Homo sapiens: one gene and its partner. The protein of the gene in region 1 purifies or fractionates together with the protein of each later gene. This does not show direct contact. Each region holds a gene or a part of one and is shown in the gene's direction. Other genes may lie near its edges.

What was found.
Region 2: the proteins of PPP4R3B (region 1) and OSBPL8 fractionate together in Homo sapiens (co-fractionation; one large-scale study listed by BioGRID). This does not show direct contact.

The regions. Positions count from the first base shown.
Region 1 is NC_000002.12:55,561,991-55,565,818, reverse strand, and holds part of PPP4R3B (serine/threonine-protein phosphatase 4 regulatory subunit 3B), read left to right. Parts: exon of another isoform or gene 1-116; intron 117-607; coding exon of another isoform or gene 608-625; exon of another isoform or gene 626-663; intron 664-777; coding exon 778-917; intron 918-1,321; coding exon 1,322-1,506; intron 1,507-3,828. UniProt on the Homo sapiens protein: Regulatory subunit of serine/threonine-protein phosphatase 4 (PP4). May regulate the activity of PPP4C at centrosomal microtubule organizing centers.
Region 2 is NC_000012.12:76,392,172-76,395,999, reverse strand, and holds part of OSBPL8 (oxysterol-binding protein-related protein 8), read left to right. Parts: intron 1-1,270; coding exon 1,271-1,355; intron 1,356-3,247; coding exon 3,248-3,419; intron 3,420-3,828. UniProt on the Homo sapiens protein: Lipid transporter involved in lipid countertransport between the endoplasmic reticulum and the plasma membrane: specifically exchanges phosphatidylserine with phosphatidylinositol 4-phosphate (PI4P), delivering phosphatidylserine to the plasma membrane in exchange for PI4P, which is degraded by the SAC1/SACM1L phosphatase in the endoplasmic reticulum.

The DNA.
Region 1 (3,828 bases):
GCTTGAGAGAGATCTCTTTGTCATCAAGCCTTTGCCAGCTCCTATATGATATATGTGGCAGAGTTAGGCTCATTTGAAAACTTAACAAATGTACCAGAAAGAAAACCACCACAACCATATCCCATTTTGATAGCAGTTAAACAGGAAGTCATTAAATAAGACCTGTTTGTTGAAAAATATGTTTTTCTTTTATTAATACATAATATTATACAGATGTATTTGGTACATGTATTTATTTTTTACATGCATAGAATGTGTAATGATCAAGTCCGGGTATTTGGGGTATCCATCACCGTGAGTATTTTGAAAATGTAATTTTAACATCTGCCCTCTAACCAGCCGTGTGCTCTGGATCAAACCATCCAGCCTCTCTTAGAGCCTCAATTTTGGTTTTTCTCTAAAATGGGAATAATAAAACCTATCTCATAGAATTGTTGTGAAGATCAAATGAAATTTTATGTAAAAGTGCTTTTTAAATTGTAAACTGCTATATATATATATATATATACAAAAAATAGAAGATGTAAAATAAATCTATTTACTTTTCGAATGCTCTTTATAGTCCTATAAAAGGACTCCAGTAAATTGCTTCTCCTTTTTTTTCAAGTTTTCTGTGCAGTCCTGACTCATGTGTAAAGAAACCAGGACATTACATTTTGGAAGGTGATTTTGAAAAACCTTTTTTGATCAGCTTTAGAACTACAAAACAAAATTTTAAAGTTTTTCTTCTAACAAGCATTGTATTATATTTTAAATGTAAATTTTGTGCTTATACAGGAAGATATCAAGTCTCTTACTGCCCATATAGTTGAAAACTTTTATAAAGCACTTGAATCGATTGAATATGTTCAGACATTCAAAGGATTGAAGACTAAATATGAGCAAGAAAAAGACAGACAAAATCAGAAACTGAACAGGTATTGTTTAAGTATACTGCTTTTATAGCCTACAAAACTGTGTCCAAAATTGTTTGTAGTTCAGATTTTCCATGTGAAATTTACTGAGGAATTTTCTTTCCATCACTGGATAGCATAGAGTTGAATAGGAGGGTAAGGCGTCCCCCCTACCCCATATCATTTATATGTTGAATTACTACTCCATGTTGTAACTTACGAAGAATATTTAGTTTAATTTACAACATCCTAAAATATTTTGGAGTGTTCTCTGGCTACATCTTCTATCATTACAGAGATTATTTTGATATAAATTATAGTCAGTTAAAATTACTTCAGTTCATCTTGGTTATACATATTTTTCCTTCAGTTCAATCTGATGATGAACTTTAAATCATTACTCAATATTTGTGATATATTTCTTACAGTGTACCATCTATATTGCGTAGTAACAGATTTCGCAGAGATGCAAAAGCCTTGGAAGAGGATGAAGAAATGTGGTTTAATGAAGATGAAGAAGAGGAAGGAAAAGCAGTTGTGGCACCAGTGGAAAAACCTAAGCCAGAAGATGATTTTCCAGATAATTATGAAAAGTTTATGGAGACTAAAAAAGGTATTAAAATTCGGAATTTTTGCACAGTGTACCCTCTTATTTAGTGCAGAAATTATTTTGTTGCTTTGTGAAGGTTTGTTTATAGTTTACAAAGCAAGAAAGACAAAAATTTTATACCAAACTGTGTTCTTTTAAAATTATGTACTTTTTCCAAATCTGTCTGGGAATTCTTTTCATGTTTAAAATGTTTCTCTTCAAACTTGCTATTTTGTAATGCTGTTAATTTGCTAGTTAGAAATTGAATTATCTACTTATACTTTTCTTTCTGTGAATAGTCTTGGCTTTATTTCTATACTGAAATTCTCAGTAATAACAGAGACCATATAGCTTCATAGAAACCTTCTAGAGTACTTTGCCTGTGTCTTTTACAGCTGATAAACTGAGCTCAAACAAGTAACTTTGCTCTTTGAAATTTTAAAATTACAAAAGTTACATAAAGATATACTAACAAGAGAAGTGAAAAAGTAAAACTTCCCCTGGCTTTCAGATGTGCTTAACTTGTTTTATAAAATGAAGATCTTGCTAGTAATATATCTTTCAAAAGAACTAACCATTTTACTTCTGTGGCCTGAGGAATTACCATTTTTTGGAATACTGCCCTGAGTATATCATTTAAATATTTAATTAAAATTTATACCTTGCTGGGCATGGCGGCTCACGTCTGTAATCCCAGCACTTTGGGAGACTGAGGCAGGTGGATCATTTGAGCCCAGGAGTTCCAAACCACCCTGGGTAACATGGTAAAACCCTGTCTCTACAAAAAAACACAAAAATTAAATGGGCACAGTGGCACTTACCTGGAGTCCCAGCTACTAGGAAGGCTGAGGCTGGAGGATCACTTGAGCCCAGGAGGTCGAAGCTGCAGTGAGCCATGAGCTGCCGCTGCACTCCAGCTTAATAACAGAGAAAGACCTTATCTCAAAAACAAAAGAAAAAATTTATGTCTTAGAAGATAAAAGCCTTTCTTGGATTTATTATGTAAGTTTGTGATTTTGAATGTGACATTTTCTAAAGACAATTCTCAGAAAATTAATTTCATTTATTACATTTTCTTTGAAACTATTGTTCGTACTCATTTTCAACTCATTAGTTTGATAAGTTTTATTTGCCTCAGCGTGGCGGAGCAAAAAGCTTATTAAAATATCCTAAGAAATCGGTACCTTTGCTAGACAAATTCTTCTGCCTTTACTCATTACAGGTACTGCCCTGACTATTGTCAAAAGAGGCAGTACAGCCATATTTGAAGTTCTGTATCCAGTGTTGAGTGAGATGCTGTTAAGAATCATATATAAAAATAATAACCAGATGTTAAAAGGGATTGGACACCTATGTCATAACACAAACAGAAAAAGGAACCTGGAATATTTAGGACTTACGGACTTGATCATTGTCTTTAGGCATTTGGAATATTGACTTGTGAGAGAAATTACTAGGTTTTTACCATGAGTAAAGAAGTGTAGAGTCAGTGAGTGGAAGCTACAGGGAGACAATAAAAGGAAGAGTCAGACAGCTAATGAGATTTTAGATGTATGTGCTAGATACCACAATGTAGAGTTCTAGCATAGAATGGCTAATTTTGTTATGATCCGTAAGGTCCTTTCTAATACTGAGATTTCTAAGATTCTAGCTAATAAAGACTTACCACTTGTATTAGTTCGTTTTATACTGTTAAAAAGAACTACCTAAGACTGGGTAGTTTATGAAGAAAAGAGGTTTGATTAACTCACAGTTCTGTAGGCTTAACAGGAAACATGGCTGAAAGGCTTCGAGAACCTTACAGTCATGGTCGAAGGCGAAAGGAAAGCAAGCATATCTTAACCATGGTGGAGCGGGAGACAGAGAGTGTGAAGGAGGAGGTGCCATGCACTTTTGTTTGTTTGTTTGCTTTTTGAGATGGAGTCTCCTTCTCATTGCCCAGGCTGGAGTGCAGTGGCGTGATCTCGGCTCACTGCAACCTCTGCCTCCTGGGCTCAAGCAATTCTCCTGCCTCAGCCTCTCAAGTAGTTGGGATTACAGGCATGTACCACCACACCCAGCTAATTTTTATATTTTTAATAGAGATGGGGTTTCACCATGTTGGCCAGGCTGGTCTTGAACTCCTGGTCTCAGATGATTCACCCACTTTGGCCTCCCAAAGTGCTGGGATTACAGGCATGAGCCACCAAGCCCGGCCGAGGTGCCACACACTTTGAAACAACCAGATCTCGTGAGAACTCACTATCACAAAAATAGCAAGGGGGTTTTCTGCCTCCATGATTCAGTCATCTCCTCCAACACCTGGGGATTACAATTCACAATGAGATTTGGGTGGGGACAAGAGCC
Region 2 (3,828 bases), on another chromosome or scaffold:
TATAGTATTCTACTACTCTTAGGAATTGCAAGCATTAAAATAAATTTTTAAGCCATTAATGATTTTAATGTCAAATTTATAATATTTAATTCTTAATATTGGAAGAAGAGAGAAATCTGTATAATTATATAAATACTTCCCACAAGCAAAACCTACTTAGGATATTGTTTAAATATTTTAGAAGCCAGTGTTTGTGATTAAGAAATAGTAACAGCTATGAGTTCTTTGTGTCAGGTACTTGAATATTTTACATGAAATCATTTATTTAATTCTCATACCTATAAGGAGGATACAGTTTCTTCCCATTGTACACATAAAGAGATTGAACCCTGTTTTTCTAGCATGGAGCCATGATTGAAACCCAGGCAGTCTGATTCCATGTCCCACTATATACTGGTTTTAGGAACTGGCCCATAAATTGTAAAGCTATTTGAAAATGCAGATTATTACGGTATTTGTTAAAGTCATATTAAATTTTTTTTCTGTTTTCGTTTTGAATCTACATCTTTACTTTCTAATGTTATGCTTTTTGGAAATTTATTTCATTTTTTGACCTAATAACTTTAAAGAACCCTTTGAAAACAACTTAAAAATTATGCTTTTGTATCAAAATTATACTTTAAATTCAGTACTTAGTTTTCTTTCCAGATTCGTGTCTACCTAAGTTTAGCATTGGTGATACTAATTAGTGTTGGTATTGTATACTTCTAAAACAAACAACCCTAGCCAACAACAACGACAGAATTTCTTTTTCTTTCATGTTTCTGGAAAAATAAAATCAGCTTATATAGTTGGTGTTTAAAAACAGGTGTATGTCATTGGTTATAAAGTGGAGATTTATTTTTCCCTAGACCCAGTTAAAGTTCATTTCTCTTTTTTTAAATTATAATTCTATTTCCACATGCTTTCTTTAGCCTTCTAGAAATTTAGTATTTCTTATCTCATTAGTTGTATCCATGGGATGGACATTGTTAAAATTTGGTTTAATATGGTAAACTTTAGGTTCTCTTTAGTATGTAAGCAGTATGTAGAGATAATATTTAAGTGATAATTCATTTGTTCAGTTTTCTGCTAAGGAGATATATTTGTTAGAAAATTTTTCTTAATACTTAACATTTGCATTCTCAAGAATGATGAAATTAAAGCTCATTTGCCTTTAGATTATAATCCATACCTGATTTAGATTATTACAGATAATATTGGATAGTGTAAAGATGAGATCTCATAATAATTACTCTATACCATTTATTTTGTTTATTTTGTTATTAAGGGTCCAAAAGGTGAAGCGGTTGGATCCATTACTCAACCCTTACCTAGCAGTTATTTGATCATCCGAGCTACTTCAGAGTCAGATGGTAAGTATAGTTTTTGATGGATTGGATTTTGGTCTTCATTTTTAAGAGTTTTTTTAATGCCACTTTGTATTATTCTGGGGAAATATATTTTTAGTATGGCATTTGCAGCAGAAGCATGGTAATCATAAATTGTTTTGAATGCTAAATATATGAGTAACTTAATAGACAAAAATCTGATAGAAAGGAAGCATTGTGTGATTTACTGAAGAGTTAGCAGTTCAGAGTTTTCTTCTTCATCCTCCATGGACATATTAACACCTTTTTATTTGTTAGTGGTCTTTATGGTACTCTTAAAGATATATTTAATACTTTTTATATTTTACTACTAAATGTTACCATTTATGAGACATATACATTGTTTTGGTTTTGTTTTTTTTTATGTAAGAGATTCGAGTACAACCTTTTTTATTCCTCCTTTAACACTTAATTCATGAAGCAAATATGGAGAGAGAAAAACTTAAATGATATCAAGGTAACTTTAAAATCTTAATAATTAATAATGGATTTTGTCCTCACTTTCATGCTTTCATGTTTCATAGTTTAGACAAGGTTGGTATAGGGAATCTTCTAACCTTCCAAAGTTTACTTTTATCTGATTTTTTTTGTTTTGTTTTGTTTTTGTTTTTGAGATGGAGTCTCGCTCTGTTGCCAGCCTGGAGTGCAGTGGCACGATCTCGGCTCACTGCAACCTCTGACTCCCTGGTATAAGTGATTCTCCTGCCTCAGCCTCCCGGGTAGCTGGGATTACAGGCACATGCCACCACGCCCAGCTAATTTTTGTATTTTTAGTAGAGACGGTTTCACCATGTTGGCCAGGATGGTCTCACACTCTTGCCCTCATGATTCGCTTGCCTCGGCCTCCCAAAGTGCTGGGGTTACAGGCGTGAGCCATCGCACCTGGCCTCAGATTTTTTTTTTTTTTTTTTTTTTTTTTGAAACGGAGTCTCACTCTGTCGCCCAGGCTGGAGTGCAGTGATGCGATCTCGGCTCACTGCAAGCTCCGTCTCCCGGGTTCACGCCATTCTCCTGCCTCAGTCTCCCGAGTGGCTGGGACTACAGGCGCCTGCCACCACACCCGGCTAATTTTTGTGTATTTTCAGTAGAGACAGGGTTTCACTGTGTTAGCCAGGATGGTCTCGATCTCCTGACCTCGTGATCCGCCTGCCTCGGCCTCCCAAAGTGCTGGGATTACGGGCGTGAGCCACCGCGCCTGGCCGATGATTTTTTTAAATTAAAATATAGGTATGAGCTTTCAATATGAAGATGCTTTACTTGGCTGATATTCCCAGCAAATCTTGAAGTGATATATATGAAAATTAAGAGCCCTAAACAAATATAAATGAAAAGTTTTCTGCTAATTCACTTTTAAATTTTTACTTAAAAAATAAAACTATTAATGTTTCTCTTAACTAATATGGCAGTTAATGGTAGCATTATGCAGGCATTTTCCTGACTTAAAAAGTTTCATACATACAAGTAGAATGGTTGTTAATCTTGAGGATAGACCTCCTATTAACAAAAACAGTTACTTCAGATAGTTTGTTTGTAGTAGAATCATAAATCCTCAAGTGTATTTTATGTACCTTGCTTGATACCTTCAAATTATACTGCATGTTAATGTTCTAAGATTTGAAAAATAAAGTATGTTTATTTTAGATTGGGTATAGTTTCTAATGCATGCTGTATACTATTCATTTATCAGTGGTGTGCTTAGTATGTGAAAAGCATTTGAAAAACGGAAAGATTTCATTAAATTCTAGCAAGATGTTATGTTCAGATTAACTTTTCCAGTGCATGTTTCTCAAAGAAATAGTGGTAACAGGGTAAGTTAAGATGCATGCTAGTTTCATAGTTTTAAAAATTATAGTGCTTATGAATCTGTGTTCTTTTAGGAAGGTGCTGGATGGATGCTTTGGAGTTGGCTTTGAAATGTTCTAGTCTTCTTAAACGTACAATGATCAGAGAAGGAAAGGAACATGACCTGAGCGTTTCATCAGATAGCACACATGTGACTTTCTATGGCTTACTACGTGCTAACAATCTCCACAGTGGTGATAACTTCCAGTAAGTAGATACTGCCGCTGAGTTGGTAATGTTTCAGAGACCATACTGTTCACAAAATTAGTTGGCAGGCCTAGAATTTTAGTAGTGTATCTAGGACTGAAATTTGCATATCTTCCCATTATATGGCCTAGGAACCGGCTTAAAATTTGTTTAGCTGCTATAATCAGGTGTAGAAATGTATTTCCTTGATTCCAGCCAACGTGATTTACTTTATCTTTCCCAAATATAGCCATGCTAATTATTCACCTTGTCTGTGCATGATGTCCCTTCTATTAAGAATGATTTCTGCCTACTCCTCCTTACGCTTTTCTCCTGTCTATATATTCTTCAAGATCAGTCTCAAATATTACATCATGTGTGAAACCTTATAACTATGAGACATAATCTGTCTTTCTATAGAGTAACATGT